Linked DNA regions of Homo sapiens: all the other regions are linked to region 1. The links come from fine-mapping of genetic effects on gene expression. A gene starts in region 1. Each other region holds a variant in brackets. All regions are shown on one strand. Distances are from middle to middle.

The links. PIP is the estimated chance that this variant, and not a neighbour inherited with it, causes the effect.
Region 2: its variant is fine-mapped to the expression of AGFG1 in memory regulatory T cells (Schmiedel 2018, PIP 0.94).
Region 3: its variant is fine-mapped to the expression of AGFG1 in fibroblasts (GTEx, PIP above 0.99).
Region 4: its variant is fine-mapped to the expression of AGFG1 in fibroblasts (GTEx, PIP 0.97).
Region 5: its variant is fine-mapped to the expression of AGFG1 in monocytes after interferon gamma (Fairfax 2014, PIP 0.95).

What each region holds. Positions count from the first base shown.
Region 1 is chr2:227,469,240-227,474,344 of GRCh38, forward strand. AGFG1 (ArfGAP with FG repeats 1) reads left to right here and starts at 2,917. Exons shown (of 13, transcript NM_004504.5): 1 at 2,917-3,349. The coding sequence starts at 3,183. It overlaps MIR5703 (microRNA 5703), which reads left to right and starts at 2,893; the gene lies at 2,893-2,948. LOC124907994 (a long non-coding RNA gene) reads right to left here and starts at 2,860. Exons shown (of 2, transcript XR_007088114.1): 1 at 1,921-2,860; 2 at 1,549-1,750. RefSeq lists an enhancer at 1,830-2,793 and a silencer at 2,906-3,625.
Region 2 is chr2:227,410,262-227,415,366 of GRCh38, forward strand. No RefSeq gene overlaps it. Among named protein-coding and RNA genes, the nearest start is that of SCYGR1, 25 kb to the left of the region's middle. RefSeq lists an enhancer at 1,349-1,548. The variant C/T (reference allele first, on the strand shown) is at 2,453.
Region 3 is chr2:227,418,943-227,424,047 of GRCh38, forward strand. No RefSeq gene overlaps it. Among named protein-coding and RNA genes, the nearest start is that of SCYGR1, 34 kb to the left of the region's middle. The variant C/T (reference allele first, on the strand shown) is at 3,171.
Region 4 is chr2:227,403,101-227,408,205 of GRCh38, forward strand. No RefSeq gene overlaps it. Among named protein-coding and RNA genes, the nearest start is that of SCYGR1, 18 kb to the left of the region's middle. The variant G/A (reference allele first, on the strand shown) is at 2,026.
Region 5 is chr2:227,554,719-227,559,823 of GRCh38, forward strand. AGFG1 (ArfGAP with FG repeats 1) reads left to right here. Exons shown (of 13, transcript NM_004504.5): 13 at 1-5,105. Among named protein-coding and RNA genes, the nearest start is that of SCYGR2, 42 kb to the right of the region's middle. The variant GTTTA/G (reference allele first, on the strand shown) is at 2,874.

The DNA.
Region 1 (5,105 bases):
CTATATATATTGATCACCACTGGAAGGTGAAATGAAGCCAATACATTATTTTGAAAATTTGTGAATAAAGGAAAGGAATCAAATATTTATCCTGCCTTTCTGACATGTACTATACCAAATAAAATGGTAGATGAGGGGAAATTTTTTCTTTATAGAAAATTTGAGCTGATAAATGAAGGAATGGTAGAATTAGTTTTATTTATTTATTTATTTTTATTTTTTATTTTTTTGAGACAGAGTCTCATTCTGTCACCCAGGCTGGAGTGCAGTGGTGGGATCTCAGCTCACTGCAACCTCCACCTCCTGGGTTCAAGCAATTCTCCTGCCCCAGCCTCCCGAGTAGCTGGGATTACAGGTGCCTGCCACCATGCTCAGCTAATTTTTGTATTTTTAGTAGAGACGGGGTTTCGCCATGTTGGCCAGGCTGGTCTCGAACTCCTGACCTTAGATGATCCTCCTGCCCCAGCCTCCCAAAGTTGCTGGGATTACAGGCGTGAGTCACCGCACCCAGCCAGAATGGCAGAATTAGAATATCAGTATTTTCTAATCATTAATGAATTAATGAATCTAGACATTAATCATCAATGGTTACCAACATCATGAAAAAGATATCCTCTCCTCAATTATGTCCCTCTTGATGGAAGAACACAATGAAATGAATGCCTGCCCCGCAAAAATACTGAACTGGATACTAGTGAACTAGATCTAACTACCAATTTTTAGGAAATAGAACAGAGGGACATGTTAAATGATACAGATTATGAGAAACTCTACAGAATAAAGTGCCCAATTACTAAAACAAATGAATTATAATTAAAAAAAAAGAGATGGTGGAGAGACCCAAAGAAACCTTATGAGACATATTACCCAGTTGCAAGGAGTGGGTTCAAACAAACTGTAAAAATCTCATTAAAATATTGATAATTGCCAACTTAAACACTAGTGCGATATTTGATGATCTTTAGGAGTTATTAACTTTTTTTTTTTTGAGGCGGAGTCTTGCTCTATTGCCCAGGTTGGAGTGCAGTGGCACAATCTTGGCTCACTGCCACCTCTGCCTCCCAGGTTCAAGTGATTCTCCTGCCTCAGCTTCCCAAGTAGCTGGGACTACAAGTGCATGCCACCATGCCTGGCTAATTTTCATATTTTTAGTAGAGACCCGGTTTCGCCATGTAGGCCAGGCTGGTCCTGAACTCCTGACCTCAGGTAATCCACCTGCCTTGGCCTCCCACAGTGCTGGGATTACAGGTGTGCGCCATCGTGCCCAGCCTATTGTTAACTTTTTAGATATGCTAACGGTATCATGGCTAAGTTTGAAAGAGATAAAGTTTTTATTTTTTAGGGATACAAATGGAACTATGTACCATTTAGATGAATGGTACGAAACCTAGAATTTGCTTTAAAATAATAGGAGAGGGGATGGAGGGTTGAGGTATTTATAAAGCAAGATTAGCCATGGGCTTAATCATTGCTGAAAGTGGTCCATGGGCTCATGGTAGTTTGATATTTTCCATAATAGAAAAGTTTAAAAACATTCATTGGCCAATCTATCTGTCCATTTCTTTTAATATTAAAAACATTAATTATTATTAGTAGTATTATATTAATATGAAGTCTCACTTTGTTGATTCACCCAATCCCTTTCATGAGAGATGTGGAGGTTGGTCTTGGCTGTTAGGAAACGTAGATTCTAATCCATTCAACAGCCCAGTGATTTGAGAACTTCAGCTCTCTGGGTCTCCCTGTACTCCTTTGGAAAACGAGAGACGAAGTTGATTGTTGCAGTGGGGATTTGGGTCCTGCAGTCTGGCTGTCTGGGTTGGAATTGAGCTTCGCCATAGGTACCCTTGGGTAAATTTACTTAATCCCTCAGGGTTTCATCTTCCTGTTTTGTAAAATGTAAATAACAATAACGCTCACCTCGAAGGGTTGTTGTGAAGATTACATGAACGATTTCATGTATTCATTCCGTCAACATTGAACACCTAGTCTCCAGCTCTGCGAGGGGAATGGGGTGGAGTGGCACAGAAAATACGGGGGCCAGGCTGTTTAGCGCCTAAAGGGAGAGTCCAGATCACCCATGGTAAACACGAAATAAGATGCAGTATTTCAAATAGCTAGAACTGAGACGAAAATACAACGCAGCAATTTGATGGAGAGCAACTTCGAGAAAGGTGAGCTGCAACATTAACTCGGCTGATCTGGGACAGTCTGGCGGGGGAGGTGACATCTGAGCCCCACCTGACTTAGAGGATGTCAGCTATGGATGATCCGGGTTTCCACACGCAGCAGTTCTCAAGCCAGGTGACTGCACCGCCCTAAAGTTCCCTCCACTTTTGGCAATGTCTGGGGATTTTTGGTTGCCAGCAATGGGAATTGGGGGGTTTGTTCTTGTATCTAGTGGGTATAGGCTAGGAACGCCGCCCAGTATCCTACAGTGCACAGGACACCCCAAGCCCCCCCAAATTAGCTGGCCCAAAGATAAAGAGAGAAGAGCAAGGGCAAAGGTCCTGCAGGAGTCAGAAAGGAGCTTGCTGTGTTCAGAAAACTCAAAATCCAGTGTGGCTGAGTGAGGACGACGAAGAATGAGGTAGACTGGGCTAGACTATGGAGCACTTTTTACGGCACGGTGAGGAATTTGGAATTATACTCAAAGCAGTGGAAAGCCCTTGAAGAGTTTTAAACAGAAGGGGAAGGTAACCCATGTGAAACGCTTTGCATATATAAGCGCTCAATAAATACTGTCTATTATTAATATTATTATCACCATTGTGTCTACCCTACTTGGCTCCAGACCCGGCCCATGCCTCAGCGAGGCCGCAGTGACTCCTCCTGGCCAGCAGAGGGCGCCAGCGGACACTTGGCTACCGGCCGCCCAGGGCGGGCCTCCTCTTGCCGTCCCCTTCCTCGTCTTTTCCCCTCAGGAGAAGTCGGGAAGGTGGCGGCGGCGGCGGCGGTTGTCCCGGCTGTGCCGGTTGGTGTGGCCCGTCAGCCCGCGTACCACAGCGCCCGGGCCGCGTCGAGCCCAGTACAGCCAAGCCGCTGCGGCCGGGTCCGGCGCGGGCGGCGCGCGCAGACGGAGGGCGGCGGCCGCGGCCAGGGCGGCCCGTGGGACCGCGGGCCCCCGGCGCAGCGCTGCCCGGCTCCCGGCCCTGCCGGCCTCCTCCCTTGGCGCCGCGGCCATGGCGGCCAGCGCGAAGCGGAAGCAGGAGGAGAAGCACCTGAAGATGCTGCGGGACATGACCGGCCTCCCGCACAACCGAAAGTGCTTCGACTGCGACCAGCGCGGCCCCACCTACGTTAACATGACGGTCGGCTCCTTCGTGTGTACCTCCTGCTCCGGCAGCCTGTGAGTGCGGGGCGGCCGGGCGGGTGTCGGGCCCTTCCCGGGAGGTGGGGGAGCGGGCGGCGGGACCGGGACCCTTCCGGGGCTGGGAAAGAGCCGGGTGCCGTGGGAGGCGGTCGGGGGCGGCCGTTGGGCGCCGGCTGGCGGGCGCGGCGTGGGAGGCTGCGGGCTGGATGCGCAGGGCCCGGGCAGCCGGGCTGGGGATGCGTTTTCGGTTTTGCCGGGCGAGGGTTTACGTTCTGGGCAGCCTTCGTGGGTGGGACGTGGGCGGGGTTGGGGTCAGGGAGGGGGCGACCGGGGCGAGCGTCCCTGGTCTCCGTCGAGCCTGCGGCCGCCGCCCTCGCTCTCCAGCTACCCGGGGCGCCGGGCTGTGGGGGGTGGGGGAAGACGCTAGGAGGCCGGGGGGGAGGTCCATGCGGGTCCTTTGTGTGCCCCGCCTCTCAGCGGCCCGGGAGCCGCGGTGCGGAGCGAGGCACCTGCTGGGCGCTCCTGCTGGGGGTCGGGGAGAAGCTGGGGTGGGAGGGAGGGACGCCTGCCTCGCCCGTGCCTTTTTTCTGGGTCGAGAGTACCTACGTAACTGGGAGGAAGCAGGCACTTAGGAATAGTAGCAGGATGAAAGCATCTTGATGGCAGATGTGAATCCCCTGGGAAAAGTTCGAAAGGATTAATTGCGGGAGGGGGAGGCAGAGGAGCAGATTTGAAGCTGTGGGATTTTAGTTTTATGGTCCGAAGAGAGTGTTGAGGAGTTGGGGGAAAGTTTTAATGGCAATAAGGTACCCACTAGGAGCTGTGTGATTCTAAATATGATGGAGTTATCTGTGAGATTTATCTGTATCTCGCTATCAATACCCGAGTGCCCTGGCTGTACACAGAAATGAGGAGAGCTAGCAAGTCACCATGATTTCAGAAAGACACTACCGTCCTGAGTTACTGGGATGATTTGTGTTTGTTGTTCTTTGCTTCATTAAGCTTTATTTTGATAAAGATTTTTATTGCCGTGCAATTTCATTCGGAAAATTTGCAGGTGGTTTTGGAATTGATAAAATGCTTTTATATTATTATCTTGTATTTAAAGTTACTAACAACGTGGCAGTTACTAAGTATTTTTAAAACCTTTGCTTGTAAGATTAATACAAAGCACATAATACTTTATGTGGGAAAATTGATTTCTTAAAACTTAGAAAATGCAGAACATGTCTAGTATGTACTATTTGCTTTTTAAAGTTGGGCAAAGAGGCATTATTAGTATTACATGAGTGTTATTTCTTCAGCAGACATTTTTTTTGGTGCCTATTAGGTTGTGTAAGGCCCTGGGGTGTGCCAGTAAATATAGCAAAGTCTTGTTCTCTTGGTTCTTACAGTCCAGTGGGGATGCAAAAGTAAGAAAAATGTCTTGGGCAAGTACTATGCTGAACATGAAAATTGTTTGATAGGAGAGTGCTCATGGTTACTTTTAGGCTGTGTGGCCAGGGAGACACTCTGAGAAGTTGCCAGTTAATAATATTCTCGAATTACTACAGAATCACAGAGCTAGGTGATATCAAGGAGGTAGCCTGGTTCATGCATTTCATTTACAGAAAAAGGAGTTAAGCTAGAAAGTTGTTACTTACGTTGGACAATATTGGTTCCAAAATGAAGCCAATAGAACAATTGTAATTGTATTTGATTTTTATTACATGGTTAAGATGTATGTCCTGCTTTTACTAAACACAGGTCCTTTAATCCATGTAAAGTATTTGATTTGGAAAAAATACATATA
Region 2 (5,105 bases), 59 kb before region 1:
TTTAATACCTGGACGCATAAATATTTGTGTTTGATACTTTTAGGCATCTGAAAGAAGTGTCTGATTTCCTTGCTAAGGGATTGGCCTCAGGAACAGATGCATACCAGTGTTGAAATTCTCCTCAGCCTCGTGACTGGCAGTGATTCTTGTGTATCTGCCCTCTGCCTGTGTTGGAGCTGCTAAATTGTAAGAATTTGTAAGTTGGTAAAATACTTCTAAAAACCCTCAGCTCCATAAATATTTTTAAATTTAAATTTAATTTTGTTTTAGAGATAGGGTCTTGCTATATTGCCCAGGCTGGTCTCAAACTCTTGGGCTCAAAGCATCCTCCCATGTCAGCCTCCAGAGTAGCTGGCACTACGGGCACATGCCTTGCTTTGCTCTTTAATTTTTTTTTTCTTTTTTTTTTGAGATGGTCTCTTGCTCTGTCACCCAGGCTGGAGTGCAGTGGCACAATCTCAGCTCACTGCAACCTCTGCTTCCCAGGCTCAAGCGATTCTCCTGCTTCAGCCTCCTGAATAGTTGGGATTACAGGCATGTGCCACCACACTTGGCTAATTTTTGTATTTTTAGTAGAGACGGGGTTTCACCACATTGGGCAGGCTGGTCTCGAACTCCTGACCTCAGGTGATCCACTCGCCTTGGCCTCCCAAAGTGCTGAGATTATAGGTGTGAGCCACCGTGCCTGGCCAGCTCTTTAAATCTTAACGTAGTAACACCGTTACTAATTTCTCAGCTGCTTTTCTGAGTTTAACAATTTCTGACTGAATGCTTTATTTATAGGTTGACAATTCTCAGTACCCCTAGTCAGCCAAATGTGTCTCTCTCCACAACAGAGACTCACCTTCTCGTGGCTGCAAGCTGTGCAGCTGAAGAGGGATTCTGGAGAAAGAAGGGGAATCCTTTTGTTTGGGTCTATTAATGCTACGCAATGTGCCTGGGTTCTTGGAGGGAGACATATCCCATTCTTCCTTATTCCCTCCCATTGACTATACAGGAGAAACTGTATGGAGCTTACTTCAGAAAAACTATTAAGTCCCAAAGATGTGAAGTGTTTTGAATTTTATTCAAGTCCAACCTTGCAGGGCAACAACTCAACACAGCCATTCCTGCTCTTTCAGGAGAAGCCACAAGTGTGGGAAGACAGGCAGCTAAGTCTAGGGCACAGACAAATTAGTCATACTGTCTGCTTAGATCCTGAGGGCCTGCGAAACCCTCAAGGTTTCCTGGTGTCATCTTAAGGTGCTAGTTATTCCATTCTGGCTGCCTTTTGATTCATTTGGTTTTCTGCCCACAGGCAAGCAGAGGCGAAACCAACCTGCCAACTCTTACCTCAAACCCATTGAGAGAGACCTGGGGATTTCCTAGGGTTTTATTTTTACCTATTGCTCCCCAAACAGAAGTTCCATTACACAGAAGCATTTCTTTTTTTCTTTTTCTTTTCTCTTTTTCTTTGAGACGGAGTCTTGCTCTGTCACCCAGGCTGTCATGCAGTGGCACCATCTTGGCTCACTGCAATATCTGCCTCCCGGGTTCAAGAGATTCTCAAGCCTCATCCTCTCGAGTAGCTGGGATTACAGGTGTGTGCCACCACATCCAGCTAATTTTGTATTTTTAGTAGAGACGGGGTTTTGCCATCTTGGCCAGTCTGGTCTCGAACTCCTGACTTCAAGTGATCTGCCCGCCTCAGCCTCCCAGAGTGCTGGGATTACAGGCATGAGCCACCGCGCCCGGCCACACAGAAGCATTTCTCAGTGCCTAATCTAGTTTGCATATCAACTATTATGGAATAAAGAAACCAACAAGACCTTGCATTGCACTCCCTGGGTGGGATGACATATGCCTATCAAGGCCAGAGCCTCCTGAAACCCATCTCTTATTTCTGTTGGCACTGCTCCCACCCAGACAGAAATGAGTTAGAGTGAGGCATTCTCCCTAGTAACCACGGGAAGTAGGATTTCTCCCTGCAGAGGAGCAAAGGAATAGAGGAATGAATATCTTTGACTCCTACTCCTGTTCACCTTATGGGAGTCTTCTCTGATCCCCACAGCTAAAACACCGTCACTTCTACCCCATTCATCTTTATGCTCTTATCTGGCTTTATCTTTCCTGTCTTTTCCCCCACCAACACTTACCTCCCCCCTGCCCTAGAATGTGAGCCCCCTGAGCGCAGGATCTGTCTGATTCATTTACTGCTGTATCCTCAGTGCCCGAAACAGTATCTGTCCCATTTCTGAGTGCACAAAAAAAAAATCTGTTAAACAAATAGGGGACCTCTACTATTGCCAGGCACTGTGTCAGACCCTGTGCATACACTATACATGTGACACAGGTAGGTGTTAGTGGCATCATTCTACAGATGAAGAACCCAGGGAGTAACAAAGGAGGTGACATAACTTCCTCAAGGTCACACACTTAGTAAATAGTTGAGCATTTACTGCCTCTAGAGGGT[C/T]TATCCTCTAGAACTTGATCCCTTTTGTCAAATGCAAGAGCTAAAGAATTGTCGAGTAGAGTGTGTTTCATTCTTGAAACCATCTCAGTTTTCTACCTAGGTAGAATTTAGGAAAACAGAAGGGATGGCAAATATATATATATATAAAAACAGAGGAAACCTTCTTGAGGGTTACAACTTAAACAAGCACAGCCCAATACAAAATACTCTGAACTAAAATCAAACAACAATTCTCAGTATCTCAGAGGGTTTGATTAGTTTACTTAAAGTTTTTCAATCATCCCATATGCATTTACTGAGGCCCTCGTATGTGCCAGGCTCTGGGCTAAGTGCTCCGATACTAAGAGAAAGGCGGTAGACTTAGCCCTGTGGAATTTACTGTCCACCTGAGAACAATGAACCCAAGAGGTGTAAGAGACCAGGATTTCTGAAGAATACAGAAGAAATACTCAGTGTGCTTGGAGAGCAAGTGAAAGAGGGTCTGGCATAGACTGTGGGGCGGGGAGGGCAGGTCAGGGAAGATTGGCCCGAGGAAATGGTTTTAGAAGGGAACTAAACTTACCCTGGAGATTATAGTTGTCAAAGAAAAGCAAATCATAAACAGCCAGGACACACAACACAGACGTTACAGAGACACTGACAAGAGGAAATGGGAAGGAGGCGATTAGATTCATGGGCAGGAGCTCAGAGGAGAGGTACGGGCTGGAACTATATATTTGGAAGTCATTGGCTTACAGAAGGTAATTGAAATTGTAGGTGTCGATGAGATCATCTTGGAAAAAATTACACAGCAAGAAAAGAAGGGAGTCCAGCCCTGAGCTTTAAGGAAGTCTAACACGTAGTGGCTGGGAAGGGGAGGAGTTGCCAGCCAAGATGCCCGGGAAGGAGCGGGCGAGAGAGGCAGGAGGGAATGTAGGAATTGTGGCCATGTGAAATCCAGTGGAGAAAAGCTCTCAAAGGAATCATGTGTGCAGAGCCAACACTGCTGAGGGGCCAGAGATAGGAGGACGCAGAGATGAACAGGTGACAATGAAGTCATAGGTGACCCTGGGGAGAGGTCCTTAGGTGGCATGATGTGAGCAAGAGTCTGATGACAGGCAGATGAGAAAGGGTGGGAAGGGAGGGAATGGAGATGGTATCACCCAGTGGTCTGCAAACCAGGACCCACACACCAAATCTGGCTGGAGGCCTATTTATTTATTTATGATGTATTTATTTATTTTGCAAGGGCCTGTTTTTGTAAAGGAGATTTCACTGGAACACAGCCATACCCATTCACTTACATACGTATTATGGGCTGAATTTTATCCTCCTCCTTGACACTTAATTTTTTAAATTGTATATATTTAAGGTATATAACATGATGTTTTGATATACATAAACATAGGAAAATGATTTCCTTTTTAAAAAATTTTAATCAGGCCAAAAGAGAGAGAAAAAAGAATAAATATTCCTATAGTGAAATGATTTCTACAGTGAAATGAACACATTCCCTCATCTCATATAGCTACCTTTTTGTGTGTGGTAGAAATACCTAACAACTGCTCACTTAGCAAATTTCCAGTATACAGTACATTATTATTATAATTATTATTATTCTTAGAGACAGGGTCTCACTCTGTTGCCCAGGCTGGAGTGCAGTGACAGTCACAGCTCACACTGCCGCTTCAAACTCCTGGCCTCAAGCGATCCTCCCACCTCAGTGTCCTGAGTAGCCAGGACTACAGTTTTGTGCCACCACACCTGGCTAATTTCTTTTTAAATTTATGTTATACCTTTTGTAGAGACGGGAATCTCACAATGTTGCCTAGGCTGGTCTCGAACTTCTGGCTTCAAGCAATCCTCCTGTCTCAGCCTCCCAAAGTGCTAGGATTATAGGTGTGAGCCACTGTGCCCGGCCACAATACAATATTATTATTAACTATAGTGTCCCTCCCAAACTAATATGCTGAAGTCCTAACTCCAGTGCCTTAGAATGTGACTGTATCTGGAGATAGAGATAGGGTCTTTAGAGAGGTGAATAAGTTAAAATGTGGTCATTAAGGTGGGCCCTAATCCTGATAAAGAGGGGGAGATTAGGACAGACAGACACAGAAGGCAGGCCACGTGAAGACACAGGGAGAAGATGGCCATCTGCAAGCCAAGGAGAGAGGCCTTAGGAGAAACCAACCTTACCAATATCTTGTTGTCGGACTTCCAGCGTCCAGAACTGTGAGGAAATAAATTTCTGTTGCTTAAGGCACCTAATCTGTGGTTCTTTGTTATGGCAGCCCTAGCAGCCCATTGGCTATTTTTGCACTACACAAGTTGCAGAGTTGAGTAGTTACAACAGAAGCTGTATGGTGAGCAAGGCCAAAAATATTCAGTAGCTGGCTCTCCACAGACATTGTTTGCCAAGGCTAGGCATGGTAGCTCACCTGTAATCCCAGCACTTTGGGAGGTCAAGGTTGGTGGATCTTTTGAGCTCAGGAGTTTGAGATCATCCTGGGCAACATGGCAAAACCCCATCTCTACAAAAAAATACCCACGACCCGCCCCCGCCAACCAAAAAAAAAAATTAGGCATGCTGGCATGCACCTGTAGTCCCAGCTACTTAGGAGACTAAGGCAGGAGGATCACTTGAAACTAGGAGGCTGAGACGGCAGTGAGCCAT
Region 3 (5,105 bases), 50 kb before region 1:
ATGCCTGTAATCCCAGCACTTTGGGAGGCTGAGGAAGGTGGATCACCTAAGGTCGGGAGTTCAAGACCAGCCTGGCCAACATGGTGAAATCCCGTCTCTACTAAAAATACAAAAATTAGCCGGGTGTGGTGGTGCACGTCTGTGATCCCAGCTACTCAGGAAGCTAAGGTAGGAGAATCGCTTGAAACTGGGAAGGCAGAGGTTGCAGTGAGCTGAGATCACAGCCACTGCACTCCAGCCTAGGCAACAGAGCGAGGCTCTGTCTCAAAAAAAAAATTGTATATATTTAAAAGTACATATTAAACCAAATATTTAATGTATTTTTATATTAAAGTGTTTGGTTTCACTTTGCTATCTGTTTATAAGTTCATCAACTTGTGTTTTATTTTACTGTCAAAATAGATATCTATAGAACCATAGTTTGCTTTTTGTTATTATTTTATTCATTTATTTATTTATTTCGAGATGGAATTTCACTCTTGTCGCCAAGGCTGGAGTGCAATGGTGCCATCTCAGCTCACTGCAACCTTTGCCTCCCCGGTTCAAGTGATTCTCCTGCCTCAGCCTCCTGAGTAGCTGGGATTACAGGCATGTGCCACCACACCGGGCTAATATATATCTTTTTTTTTTTTTAGTAGAGATGGGGTTTCACCATGTTGGCCAGGCTGGTATTTAACTCCTGACTTCAAATGATCTGCTCTCCTTGGCCTCCCAAAGTTCTGGGATTACAGGCATGAGCCACTACACCAGGCCAAGATCCATAGTTTGAATGGGCTTCCAGGATTGGGATAGATAGCAAAGGTTCAGCTTAGGCCTGTTCCATTTGTGACTATTGTCACAAATGTTAAATTTGGAGTCACCTGCCCTTGAACTCACCCTTGACCTGGCCAGAAAAATGGAAGCATGTCAATGGTCTGGGGAGGAAAGGACCTTATGTGAAATTAAAAGAATTGTCTGGTTAACCATGTTACACCTTGGGTCCAAATAACTTTGAGTATGGGCACATTTAAGGACAGAACCTAGAGATGAGAGAACTGCTTCCTAATGGATGGAGTGAGATGAGCCCTACTGGCCAGGGTCATCAGACAGCCCTAGTTACTGGCCTGGAGACAAGGACAGTGCTGAAAACTGTACTCCAGAGACATTCCTACTATAGCTGAGACACATCTGGGGCCTCCCCAAGACACCAGAAAAAAATGGAGCCCAGAAATGGAGGCTAAGGCCCTGCAGTAGTGCAGTAAAAGTTCAGCTTAGGCTGAAGGGGATAATGAGGTAGTGAAATACCGCATTAACAATGACTGTGACCTGAGTTGTGCCTGGGCCAGTCAATAAGCTGTATTTCTCAACTCCAACCTTGCCCCTGCCCCACCTTCTGTACTCTGCTTTGTGATTCGGGGGCTGGGCCTCTGCAAACCCCATTTTCGCTTTGGAGCTGGCTCCCTCTGAAGCTCTTCCCATCTTCCCATGGGGAGATGCAAGAGAGAGACCGCACAGCCGGAGGAGGAGGAAGCCCCTCTTCTTTCCTGACCACTTTCTGCTCCTGTGAATGGCACCCAGGCAATGCTTCATTAAGAAGTGAAATGAGCATTAACCATTTCATGCTCAGCAGTAGCACCAGTTCCTTCCCGAGTCCACCACTGAAGCCAGTCTGCAATATTTTCAATGCTTGTAGAACTGGTCCCCTCACAGCCCCTCGCAGACCTCAGCTGGAACGTACAGTAGCCCTCCTTAAGAATCTGGTGCTCAGCTCCACACGGCTCTTCCTCCAAACATCTAAGCTTTAATAGTTTGAGCCTCTTCCTTTCGCTCCCCAATTCCCACTGCTTCCTCTAGTTTCTACCTCCAGGGTAGTTTTGCGTTATCTTTTTGCCATTTATGTTACCTAGCGCATTTTATGTTATCAGCAAATTTATGCTTAGTTAACAATTAAATCCTCTCTATTCAAACAACTCATGCTTTTTTTTTTTTTTTGAGACGGAGTCTCTCTGTCACCCAGACTGGAGTGCAGTGGTGCTATCTTGGCTCACTGCAACCTCCACCTTCCAGGTTCAAGCTATTCTCCTGTCTCACCCTCCCGAGTAGCTGGGACTACAGGCGCCCACCATGTCTGGCTAATTTTTGCATATATTTATTTTTAGTAGAGACGGGTTTTCACCATGTTGGCCAGACTGGTCTCCAACTCCTGACCACAACTCATCTGCCCTCCTCCGCCTCCCAAAGTGCTGGGATTACAAGGATGAGCCACAGCGACGGGCCAACTGTTGCATTTTCTATCTCCTTATTGGACCGTGATTGACACATACCTAAAGTTTCCTCTGTTTATTCATTCAGGAAATACGTAATGAGTTCCCACTGTGTGCCAAGCACTGTACTGAGTGCCAGGTCACAGGGAGGAGGGAAAGACAATAACCAATAGAATAGAATCTCTCCACACACCTCCACTTACCAGAGGGAGAGATTTAAATTCTCAATCTGGGCTGGGCGCGGTGGCTTACACCTGTAATCCCAGCACTTTGGGAGGCCAAGGCGGGCAGATCACCTGAGGTCAGGAGTTCGAGACCAGCCTGGCCAACATGGCAAACCCCCGTCTCTACTAAAAATACAAAAATTAGCCGGGTTTGGTGGCGGTAGTGCCATTGTACTCCAGCCTGGTAGACAGAGCGAGACTCCATCTCAAAAATAAATAAATAAATAAATAAATAAATAAATAAATAAATAAATAAACAAACTAACTCTCAATCTGTAATATAAATGGTTAATGCTCATTTGGCGTTTTGTTTTGTTTTGTTTTAGATGGAGTTTTAATCTTGTTGACCAGGCTGGAGTGCAATGGTGAGATCTTGGCTCACTGCAACCTCCTCCTCCTGGCTTCAAGTGATTCTCCTGCTTCAGCCTCCCAAGTAGCTGGGATTACAAGCGCCCACCACCACGTCTAGCCAATTTTTGTGTTTTTAGTAGAGATGAGGTTTCACCATGTTGGCCAGGCTGGTCTCAAACTCCTGACCTCAGGTGATCTGCCCGCCTCAGCCTCCCAAAGTGCTGGGATTACAGGCGTGACCCACCGCACCCAGCCTCATTTTGCTTCTTAATGAACTTATAGTATTGAAGTAGCCAGTGCTTCCCATTCCATCATAAAACCCAGCGATGGATGCTCCTATGTTGGAGCCCCT[C/T]GCCAAGGTGAGACTCACACTAACCAAGAGTCAGTTGTGTTTGTCCCCAGTCCTGTGTATGACATTTTTATTTATATTTCTGATTGCATTATTCAATGAAATAGTATGTAAACCAATAAAATGTGAGTGATAAAAGGATGAGCATTATTTTTTATAAAAACTTAATTATAGGAAGGTTCCTATCAACAGTAATGCAAGTAGATACCAGGTGGCTGAGAAGGGCACTTCACCTATCTTGTATTCTGTCCCCAAGCCCATAACTCCAGTCTAATCTGGAAAAAATTTCAGATAAACCTATATTGGGAGACAGTCTATAGGATACCTGGCCAGGATGTCTCAAGACTATCAAGGTCATGAAAAACAAGGAAAGACTGAGAAACTGTCACAGACCAGAAGAGACTGGGCAGATATGACAACTACATGTGAGGAGAAACCTTGGATTGGATCCTGAGGCAGACAGATAACAATGACAAAGGTGGCAAAGGCTGGGCACGGTGGCTCATGCCTGTGGTCCCAGCACTTTGGGAGGCCGAGGCAGGCAGATCACCTGAGGTCAGGAGTGTGAGACCAGCCTGGTCAACATGATGAAACCCTATCTCTACTAAAAATACAAAAATTAGCTGAGCATGGTGGTGGGCACCTGTAATCCCAGCTACTCGGGAGGCTGAGGCAGAAGAATCGCTTGAACCAGGGAGGCGGAAGTTGCAGTGAGCCAAGATCACACCACTGCACTCCAGCCTGGCAACAGAGTGAGATTCCATCTCAGAAAAAGAGAAAAAACAAAAGAAAAAAAAAACGGTGGTAAAATACTAATGAAGTCTAGAGTTTAGTTAATGATAATGTGCCATTGTTGGTTTCTTAGTTTTGACGAATGTACCAGAGTAACGTAGGTGTTAATAATTGGGAGGATTAGGTGACGGGTATTCAGGGACTCTCTGTACTATCTTTGCAATTTATCTGTAAATCTAAAATTACTGCAAAATGAGATGTTTGTTTTTAAAAAACTAAATTACATGCCTCAGAAGATTTGATAATAATGGATTGCTTTTAAACAATGCTGTTAAATTAGGCATGGGCACGACCTAACTGTAAAGGATAAGAACAATTTTTGAAATTTTGCTTTACACATCTCCTTACGTTCATGCTCCACTTTAAAGAAAATGAAACCAGAAATTGTAGATGATGCTTTATGGCTATAGTTTATGCAGGAAAGATGATGCTGAATTCCAATCAACATATTCAGGATGATGGCCTAGGTTAAAACATAGGCAAAAAGAATGAGCATTTATTTATATTTTTACAAAAATAGTTCATATACATAGTATATATCGCTTGTTATGATTCCCTAATTTTGTCATCTAATTTTTAACCGACTTACCAACTACCAGTCTCAATTGCGTTAAATAAGATGGCTTCTACCAAAAACTAAAATCAGACAATCACGGATTGTGAAGGGCATTCTGAAAGAAACAGGCAGGATAGGGTAATAGAGAATGACAGGCAGGGGTGGGAGGGCTTCTTGGAGAGGTCAGGGAAACTCTGAGAATATGACATTTGCATTGAGGTCAGAATATAGCTTAGGGAATTTTGGTTGGCAGAGTGTAATGAAGGAGAAAGTCATATAAACGGATAAGTGCAGCAGAGGGTCATGAGATGGATGTGCTGACGGAGCAGCAGGACCAAGAGGCGGGTGCACATTTCTTGCTGCGGGTGTCAGAAGAGGCTTCATGGAAGAGGCTGCCACCCAGCTGTGCTTTGAAAGAGAAAAACATGTTTCCCAGGCAGATGCAGGAGGGAGAAGAGTGATCTCCGACAGTGGGGGAAATATTTAAAAAGCACTGAAGTATGAAATATTGGGGAACCATAAACAGTGTGATGCAGGGGAGTAACTGGTCAGATTCACATGTTTGAAAGGGCGGTTAGCAGCAGTCTAAC
Region 4 (5,105 bases), 66 kb before region 1:
TGTGAGTCATCTACAGAATTGGAAGTACCTGTGAGTCATCTACATGGAGATGTCAAATAGGCTGTTGGAAGGTTGGCCCTGGGACCCAGAAAACGAACAAGGAGGAGGAGCCTCTTCTGGAGTCACAAGAGGTGAGCCAGAGTAGTGGGAGGAAACCCAGGAAGGGGGTGGAGGGCAGGTCAGTTTGGACTGGATTTAGTTTTGGTGTTGTGACAGGATCCAGACTAGAGTGGAAGCAAGTGACGGCCGGTTATGTTTAGACTTCTCTATCCACCCAAGAAGAACCCATTCTCATGCCCCAGACAAAGGGAAGTGTCTTCGGAATCACTCGGAAACGCCAATCACACTGATCCAATTGGGTGCTTCACAATGTAGGAACTAGCCTGGAGAGACAACTCAGTGAGATTTTATGGGTTTTTTGTTTGTTTGTTTGTTTTTTTGATAAGGAGTCTCGCTCTGTCGCCCAGGCTGGTGTGCAGTGGCGCAATCTCGGCTCACTGCAAGCTCCGCCTCCCGGGTTCACGCCATTCTCCTGCCTCAGCCTCCCGAGCAGCTGGGACTACAGGCGCCCGCCACCACGCCCGGCTAATTTTTTGTATTTTTAGTAGAGATGGGGTTTCACCGTGTTAGCCAGGATGGTCTTGATCTCCTGACCTGGTGATCTGCCCGCCTCGGCCTCCCAAAGTGCTGGAATTACAGGCGTGAGTCACCGCACCTGGCCTAGATTTTATGTTTTTAATCTAATCTCTTTTACAATCCAAAACCAAGAAACCAAGAGGGCCCTGACCTTTACCCTTAGCCTCAATTTAATGGGAAATCAGAAAAAAAATGTATGAAAATAATTTAGGTCAGAGCAAATCATATTCCTCCTATGCTACAGTTAGACAAAGATGAACACTGCTGCGATCAAAGAAAGACCTTAGAGGCAAGGGTCAGATTTATTTCCTGCTGCTGGACCGAGTCTTCTTTGGTGTGTGATATTGGAATAAGAGAAGAAAAAAGAGGGCCGGAGCCGGGCGCAGTGGCTCATGCCTATAATCCTAGCACTTTGGGAGGCCAAGGCGGGCGGATCACGAGGTCAGGAGATCAAGACCATCCTGGCTAACACAGTGAAACCCCGTCTCTACTAAAAATACAAAAAATTAGCCGGGCGTGGTGGTGGGAGCCTGTAGTCCCAGCTACTCGGGCGGGTGAGGCAGGAGAACGGTGTGAACCAGGGAGGCGGAGCCTGCAGTGAGCCGAGATTGCGCCACCACACTCCAGCCTGGGCGGCAGAGCCAGACTCCGTCTCAGAAAAAAAAAAAAAAAAAAAAAGAGGACCGGGCCCAATGGCTCACGCCTGTAATCCCAACAGTTTGGGAGGCTGAGGTGGGAATATCCCTTGAGTCCAGAAGTTTGAGACCAGCCTAGGAAGACCACTAGGCCCTGTCTACAAAAAAAAAAAAAAAACAAAAAAAAAAACTAGAAGAAAAAAAGGAAATAAAAAGAGAGGCTTCTTTTAGCAGAGATGACAGAGTCAGACATAAAAAGCATGAAGGGATGTCAGAAATGTGATGCTGCACCAAATGTCCCCCTTACTTGCTGATCACTAATGTGGTCTAGAGGTTTGCCAGTGGAGCTTTGCTCTTTTGAGGTAAGAGATTATGCCCCATTAAAAACAGGATGCACCTAGAAGAACAGAGGGTGGAGACGCACACAAAAGTCCTTAGGGAGAGCTCTACCACTAATGCACTGGGGACTCCCCTTAAGGGGAGATAGGGAAGTACAAGTCTCACTTACTTCTTGAGAAATGGCCAAAATGGGGTTTTAAAGGCATACTCTCAGCATTGGCACTCTTTAGGCAGGAAGATATTGGTCAGGGCTGCTTGGTAAGGATGTTCAGGTTGTGCACTCTACAGATGCACATTTATCACAGCCAGGGCCTCCTGCAGAGGCCCTGATAGCAGTTTTCGGAAGGTAAGGTCCACCTGTATGAGAGATAGAGGCATAAAATGTACGTAGATGAAGGGAGTCCCTTCCTACTGG[G/A]CAAAGTATGTCTTTATCTATACTACCTAACCCAGAACAATACATAACTAAGTGTTCAAAGGACGATTTTTATAGTGTCAATGTGAAAGTATCTTTTATTCTAGTCTCTTTGCTGTAAAAACCAGTATAAGGCTGGGCATGGTGGCTCATGCCTGAAATCCCAGCACTTTGGGAGGCCAAGGCGGGCGGATCATGAGGTCAGGAGATCAAGACCATCCTGGCCAACATGGTGAAACCCCGTCTCTACAAACAATACAAAAATTAGCCGAGTGTGGTGGCGCACGCCTGTAGTCCCAGCTACTAGGGAGGCTGAGGCAGGAGAATTGCTTGAACCCTGGAGGCAGAGGCTGCAGTGAGCCGAGATTGCGCCACTGGCCTCCAGCCTGGGTGACAGAGCAAGACTCCATTTCAAAACAAACAAACAAATAACAACAACAACAAAAAAAACAGCATAATAGAGGCTTGGGCCACCAGTCTCATCCAGGCCACACTTGGGTCAGTGACTGTGGGAGCTTCAGATTCAGGAGTTTGGTGGACTGTGCCAGAAACACGCCTTGCACCTGCTTACAGGGATGGAGGAGCGAGGACTGAGGGGGGCCAGAGATCCAAAGTTCTTGTATCTCCATAAGAAGGTGTAGGAGCAAGCCGAGCAGTCTGAAATTGTCATTAAGAACAGAAAACCTGCAGATGGGCATATTTACACACATGGCTTATGTGGGTGTGGGTGTGTGGATGGGCAACATCAAAGAGGATATGAATGGTGATTCAAAAGTCAATAGGTCAAATATGAAAATGCTAGGAGGACATCTTCATGTATCTACTGTATAGTCCAACTTTCGGTTTATGGAAAATGTCCAGCTCTTTTAGAAGGTAAACATTTTCTGACTGTGAGCTCTTGAATATGAATTTTATGGTACCTTATACATTTTTTAACTTTCAAAGCTCTGGGTTGGGTAGTTACCAGTACCATCTTCACAAATTCTGGATTCTTCTGGATGTTCTTGACTATTCTGGGAAAATTGGTGCGTTTGTTCTCCCTCCGCCTTGTACCGAGGTCTGCAGGCTTAAGGGATGTTAACAAGGCTTCAATTTGCTGTGTGCATTAGCAGGTGCTGGAAACTACGTTGCCAAATGTGTCGTAGACACAAGAGGGCGATGTGTGCTCAAATGTCAACCTCACCGAGGAAAAGGAATTCATCCTTCAGGAATTTTTGGCTGAATTCCCAGACCTAAAAAAGATTAACAAAGTGTGTTTGGGAGGGGCAAAATTCACTGTGAAACCTAATCAAAGAGGCAGGATGTGATGTCAGAGTGTGGAGACAGCCTGGCAGGAGCTTGGAGGGGATTCTTATCCTTGAGTTCAGAACTGGGCAGTACTCTAGGCTAATGATCGTTATAATCAAGACTTGTCCTCTGTCTGGATATTCAGAAAAGACAGACTTCAAGGCTGCAGAGAATCAGTGGCTGTCTTGGTCTCTGATTACAAAAACTTTATTCTGAGAAAGCCCCTCATTCATTGGAGGAAAACTGGCTGTGCACTTGTTACATGCCAGGCATGAGTCTTGTAGGGGCTAAGAATTCAGCCTTGAGTAAGACAGCCGAGGCCACTGCCCTCTGGAAGCATCAGTGACCCTTGGCACGTACTCCCATCTATTTGTTTCTTTTCTCTCTGAGCCAGTCCAAACCAGCAGTATCTACATCATCTTTTCTTGTTCTGAAAGAGAATGCAAGTCACACATTTATGGCTGTGGGCCACATTTTTTTAGAGATGCCATCTGGTTCCAGTTTTTCTGACTGTTTGTGGAGAGTGGTGATTCCAACAATCTTCTACCAAATGTAAGGGGGTGATAAAAGTGTTCAGTGTTTGCCACAGAGATATCTCTAGCTTGGCCTGATCTCAGTGCACTGCTTTTTGGGTTTACTCAACAAATTGAACAATGCTCAGCCCCTCTTCCATGGAACCTTCCCAATCTCTTTAACCAGGGTTACACTGCGACTCCTCTAAGTCTCTGTACATCATAGCACTTTTGTGGGAGACCACTGCTACTTCAAATCTCTGCCAATAGCACCATGTTTCCTTTCGTTGCTAGCTTTTTAGAATTCTAAAGCCTACTTGGCCATTAGATTTTTTTTATTTTTTTTTTTTTGAGACAGGGTCTCACTCTGTTGCCCAGGCTGGAGAGCGGTGGTGCAGTCACAGCTCACTGCAGCCTCAACCTCTTGGGCTCAAGTGATCCTTCCACCTCAGTCCCCCAAGTAGCTGGGACTACAGGTGCTCACAACCACACGCAACTAATCTTTGTATTTTTTGTAGAGACAGGATTTCGTTATGTTGCCCGGGCTGGTCTCAAATTCCTGAGCTCAAGAGATCCTCCCATTTTGGCCTCCCAAAGTGCTGGGATTACAGGCATGAGCCATTGTGCCCGGACTAGCTATTTTTTAAATTGGAGTTTGAGGAAGGAGGAACAGAAAGGCTGCATCTGCTTAGTAAATGACTCCCCGCTGCCAACACACATACCCAGCAGATGGCAACACCCATGAAAATCCTTTCATCCTGTTGTGAATGGTGGATTCCCAAACTCTACAGGACCCTGCACTAGTCAGCATCTGCTCTTCCCTCTTGAGTCAGGGCAGCCTGCAAAAGTCTGGTGTGTATCATAGGCATCTTGGGGCTCACCTTCTACAGAAGGTCAGAGGGCACAGCAAAAATAGCTTTCTTGCTGTGACCTAATACATAAACCCTGGCACACTTCCGCCTGTCAGATGGGAGCACGCCCCTGTCCTCGGGCTGTTTTTCGCTGTCGCAACAGGCTGTTCTGCCGTTAATCCTTTCCTGTAATTCCCGCCGCCTCGCTCGATCTTGCAATTCTCTTGCCCAGTGGCCTTTACAGGGGGTCATTACTGGGACACGGGGAACCAATGTGCGGTAACAAATGCAAGCTGACAGCAACACGTTCCTCGCCAAAAGTGGGACTCTTGGGTTTTGTGTGTGTCAACTCAGAAGAAACGAGAAAAAGACCCCACCATGTGTTGGATGAGGATGGAAATTGGATGCAGTGACTAAAAGTGCTTTGATTAGG
Region 5 (5,105 bases), 85 kb after region 1:
TATTAAAATTGGCTAATATTAAGTTATTGCAGATACCACATTCATTATGCTGCAGTACTGTACATATTTTTCTTAGAAATTAGCTATTTGTGCATATCAGTATTTGTAACTTTAACACATTGTTATGTGAGAAATGTTACTGGGGAAATAGATCAGCCACTTTTAAGGTGCTGTCATATATCTTGGAATGAATGACCTAAAATCATTTTAACCATTGCTACTGGAAAGTAACAGAGTCAAAATTGGAAGGTTTTATTCATTCTTGAATTTTTCCTTTCTAAAGAGCTCTTCTATTTATACATGCCTAAATTCTTTTAAAATGTAGAGGGATACCTGTCTGCATAATAAAGCTGATCATGTTTTGCTACAGTTTGCAGGTGAAAAAAAATAAATATTATAAAATATGCTATTGTTTTTGTGTTCTTGCTGCAATGCCTTTACCAAAGTGGCCTTAAATATGAGTAGTGAATTGAGAACATCTTGAATTCTTAAAAGACTTCTTAGTGACTTTTTATAAAAAGGCCATGTAGAAAATTTATTAAAACTACTATGACTGCTACATTCAGGAATATGCCAGTGGTAAAGCATTTAAATGTAGCTTGTCAGATTTACCATAATCCTACTAATTTCTTTGCAGCTTATTAATTTTGTGAAATTTGTATATATGAAGAATTTGCATGTATGTGTATTTACAAATTTTTCTAAGTATCTTGAATTCTCAGACTGCAAAAGGCCTATTTTAACTATTGATTTTTTTTAAAAAAAATTGTCTTTGAATGTATTGGAAGTAGACATGCATTAACTGTGACATTATTGCACCTCAGTTTTTTTCTTTCTTTTTTTGGGCAAACTGATATTATCTATAGGATATTTGTTTATGTTTGTTTTTTGGGGGAAAGAAACTGGAACTCAGTGTTACCTTAAAGTTACGGAATACTTTGTTTTAAAGGAAAAGATAATAAGTTTAGTTATATCTTTTTGTTAATATTCAAATGAACTTGTTTAAGTATCTATGTACAGTAATGCCTCATTCATCTAGAGGTAATCTGGCAGTCTTGTGAAAACCGAACACAACTCAGAAACTTGGAATCGTTTTTTTTAAAAATGCCTCTGAGCAACCCATATAAGTCACAAAGTCTGTGTGTTAGAGCTTATGCATTTGTTTTTATGAGAGATTTTAATAAATTTAATTATTTGCTTGTCCAGACTATAGCATATTAGCTGTTTAGAAGGGATGGCTTGAAAGGAAGGAGACTGAAAAACACTCTGAGAGCATACACTGTCCAAGGCCATTAGTGTAAGGACCGCTACCCAGCCTAGAGGACATCACTATACTACATCATCTGATGATTATTCTTTATTATGCCTCTAGGTAATTAAGTAAAGGTGAAATTGCATACACAGATATGTAGTACATATTTTAAAAGTTTTATCTTAAATTGATTAAAACTTTTTAAAAAGCTTTGGTATTAAAAGAGGTAAACATCAGTTTCCTCAAACATTTTATTCATGTTGAATGCCTTTTTGCAATGATGACTGAGTTGTTATCATAGTATTTTAAAACCTGTATAGTGTTTTAGACTTGTTAAAACATTGCTGTCTAGTGTACATCTAGCTAAAAGTGTGGTTTATCTAAACCGTTTTAATAAGCAAGATGACTGGGAAATCTCTGCCCCTTTTCTGAGCAGTATGCCTCTTCTTTTAGAATTAAATGAATGCTGCACAGGTCCAGATGTGTGTTGATGTAGACTTGAAATGTCTCCACATTTTGGAGGACTTCCTCAGCCCTTTTCATTGAGGGAAAATATATTTGAATTTCTGTTTTAGATTGTATCGGGTCCCAGTTGATTCATGTGTACAAAGTTATGCTACCTAATTACAGACCATTACCCAAATATCCTACCAGGCTTTCCATCTGAATAGTAAATTAAACAGTTGTTATCAAAATGATTTTAAAGACTATTTCTTTTTCTGGGTAACTATTGAAGTTTGTAATTAAATGGGGGCTCTTACTGACTTTAAATTAGCGCTTATAAAATAAAAATGTTTAGTTCAAGAAGAGACCCAAGCTGGGTATGGTGGTGTGAGAGCCTGTGAGTCCTAGCTACCTGGAGGTGAGGTGGGAACATCACTTGAGCCCAGGAGTTGGAGGCTGCAGTGCGCTACGATCACACCACTGCACACCAGCCTGGGGATAGAGTGAGATCCCATCTCTAAAAAATGAAAAAAAGAAGAGAGGTAGCTTTAAAGTGGTTTTTCTCATGATATTCACTGTTTATTATTAAAGAAAATCAGCTTTCGTTAGACTTTTACATTTAGATTTATTCTAGTTTTATATAGACCATCAAAATTATGTTGAGTACTAAAAAGGAGAAAAAATCCTGGAAGGTAACAAGGCTGAAGACCTTCAAATTTCCTGGCTTACTGGTTTAGTCACATCATTTTTCCTGTTCAGGTATCTGCAGATATCCCTGTTCAGGAAAGATCTTTTTTCAGGATGGCAAACTTTTGACATAGTTTAAAGACATTTTTTCCCCATTTTTTGAAATAGAGAATATTTTATTATTTTTGTGAAAATAGAGTTTTGGTAATCACTTTCTTCCTCAAAATAAGTCCTTCTGTTAATTTGTAAAAGCACATTAGTGCTTTACCTGTGAAATTCCCCGCCCCCCTGCACACACACCCACTTTAGTACAGTTCCTGTCAATTGGCAACATGGAGAGGGTGACCTGGCTGCTGGTTTACCACTGTACCAACATCTCTGGAGCATTTTAGTTTCAGAACCTTAACACTCCCCAACAGCTTTGTTGATGTAGCTTGTATCTCTGAGAATTTATTGTATTAAAATTAATACTGAGATATTTTTAAAACAT[GTTTA/G]TTTATTTAAGTATAACAGTAATAAACTAATAACTTGCTAACATAAATACCATTTTTGATAAAAATAACTTTTCCAAAACAAAAACTAATGAGAACAGGAACATTGTTTTACATTTTATGCATTTAAATCTGGCTTAATAAAAGCAGTGAGATTTTCATGCTGCTTTTGCATTCCAACTTAAAAATTACACAGCATACACACGCTGGAAAACTCCACTGTGCACTTGTGAGATCAGGAGAATGAAAACTATGTAATATCTCAGTAGTACAATGAAAATAGTTTGACTTTTCACAGCCTTTCAAAGAAAGGGTTGTAGGGACCATTAAGGGTCTCCAGACTCTTTGAGAACCACTATACTTTAAATTTGTGTATTTCTAGAACAGTATTTACTTGCAGGGCAAACATAACTATTCCCTGGGTTTTTTTTGTTTGCTAGTGAGAACTGAAATTGCAGACTTTTTAACACTACTTCAAGGTAATAATAGCAGTGGTATTATGGGCTGTGTATGAGATAGTCATTTGTAAAACAATTTTCATATTTCATCTCTTACAATCCCTGCAGTGGACCTATACTTTTAGGATGAAAGAAGCAAAGCATAGAGAGGTTAAGCTAGTGGCAGCTTTTTGCTCTGGGGAACAGATTTGGATTAAATGCTATCACATTTATATATGAATGCATTCTTTCTTAATATTTTGAAATTCTGAACAAGTTAACGTTCTTGTCTTGTATATCTAAAAAAACTTTAATCACTTGAATTCCTTTCATAATTTGATGAAATCAGTACAGTTTATTCTTGGTTTTTTTTTTTAACTTTAGAAGTAAATTAATATGGTAACTAGTGGAGCGTGCTTTAGATTGAAGACTCATCTGAAGTATCACAGACTCCTATTTTGTAAAGCATTCCACCTTTATTGATACAGTTTGTGGCCTATACACTTTTAAAATTTATTTTTTAAAAGGTGATATTAAAATTTGTATTTAACCTGTTGTATTCATCCTCATTAGTTAAGTTTTTCTTTTTATGTTTTAAAACTTAGTGACATTAAACTTTTCACGTGGTTGTTTGTGAACAGATGAATATATAACCACGATGTAATCCAGTGTTGTGCTGCTGAATGTTTAACAACCATCTTTCATGAAAGAAAAAAGGCCCTGTTTTGTAGCATTTACTAATATTTATGGTATAAATACTGTCTTCATGGTGATTTTACCTGCCAATCTGATGTCATTAAATGCAGTTTGATGAAAGAGATAGCCAACCAGTGGCTTTCCCAAGCCTTGGCAAACCAGCTTCAGCACAGCAAAGGACATACAATTCCACAACTCATTAATTAAATGTATTGGTCATTTGATGATTATATCCAGTATTTGGAGAGCTTTTATATTGTTAATTCATTTAGCAAGCATTTGAACACTTGTTTATTTTTAGAGATATACTGGGCACTGAGGTATTTAATCTGCAAAGACCCAAGTATCGTGAACCTTGGTTTTAAAAAGTCCAATTATTGTGCTCTTATAGGGGTTGCACATTCAAGGCTTACACTGAATTCTGTCTGCAGTTCTGTTTTGTGTGACCAGCACAGTGTTTTAAAACGTTGCATTCTGAATCCATCTTTTTGAAATGGGGCATGTACTCTTAAGGTGGCCACTAGCTTACCATTCCCAATTTTTCTTAGTCTCAAACATTCACATGTTTTTCAAGGCCTTGGAGTTGGCAAATCCTGAATATATAGTGAAGGTAGGAAATAGCTCTTCTTATGCCACATCTTAGTCTGATTTTGAAGTCAGTTGTGTAAGTTTGGGCTGACAGTGGTATTTTCCAGTGAAGACTATCGCCAAGAATGCATATCATTCTGCTTATTTTATTCTAGTGGATAAAAATTCAACGTATATTTAAGTGTATTTTTGACATCTGTGCTTGTCCAACACAGGGCTGTAGGGACTGATGAAAAGAGAATGTTGTGATTTGAGCTTTTATAAAAAAAGATAAGTGATCCTAGATAAAATATTTTAGATGGTGATTAAAATGCCCATAGATTAATTTTTTAATCGGTTCTCTGAAATCTTGAGATGTTATCCAAGTTACAATTTAAGCAATGAGAGTAAAATTTGAATTCTAAATTCTCAGCATCTTCCCTCATTCTTGAGTGGAGAGACAGAGGAAGCAAACGCCAAGGAGCCTTCTAATTTTGACTATATGATCATTAACTAAAGGCAGCAAGGGAT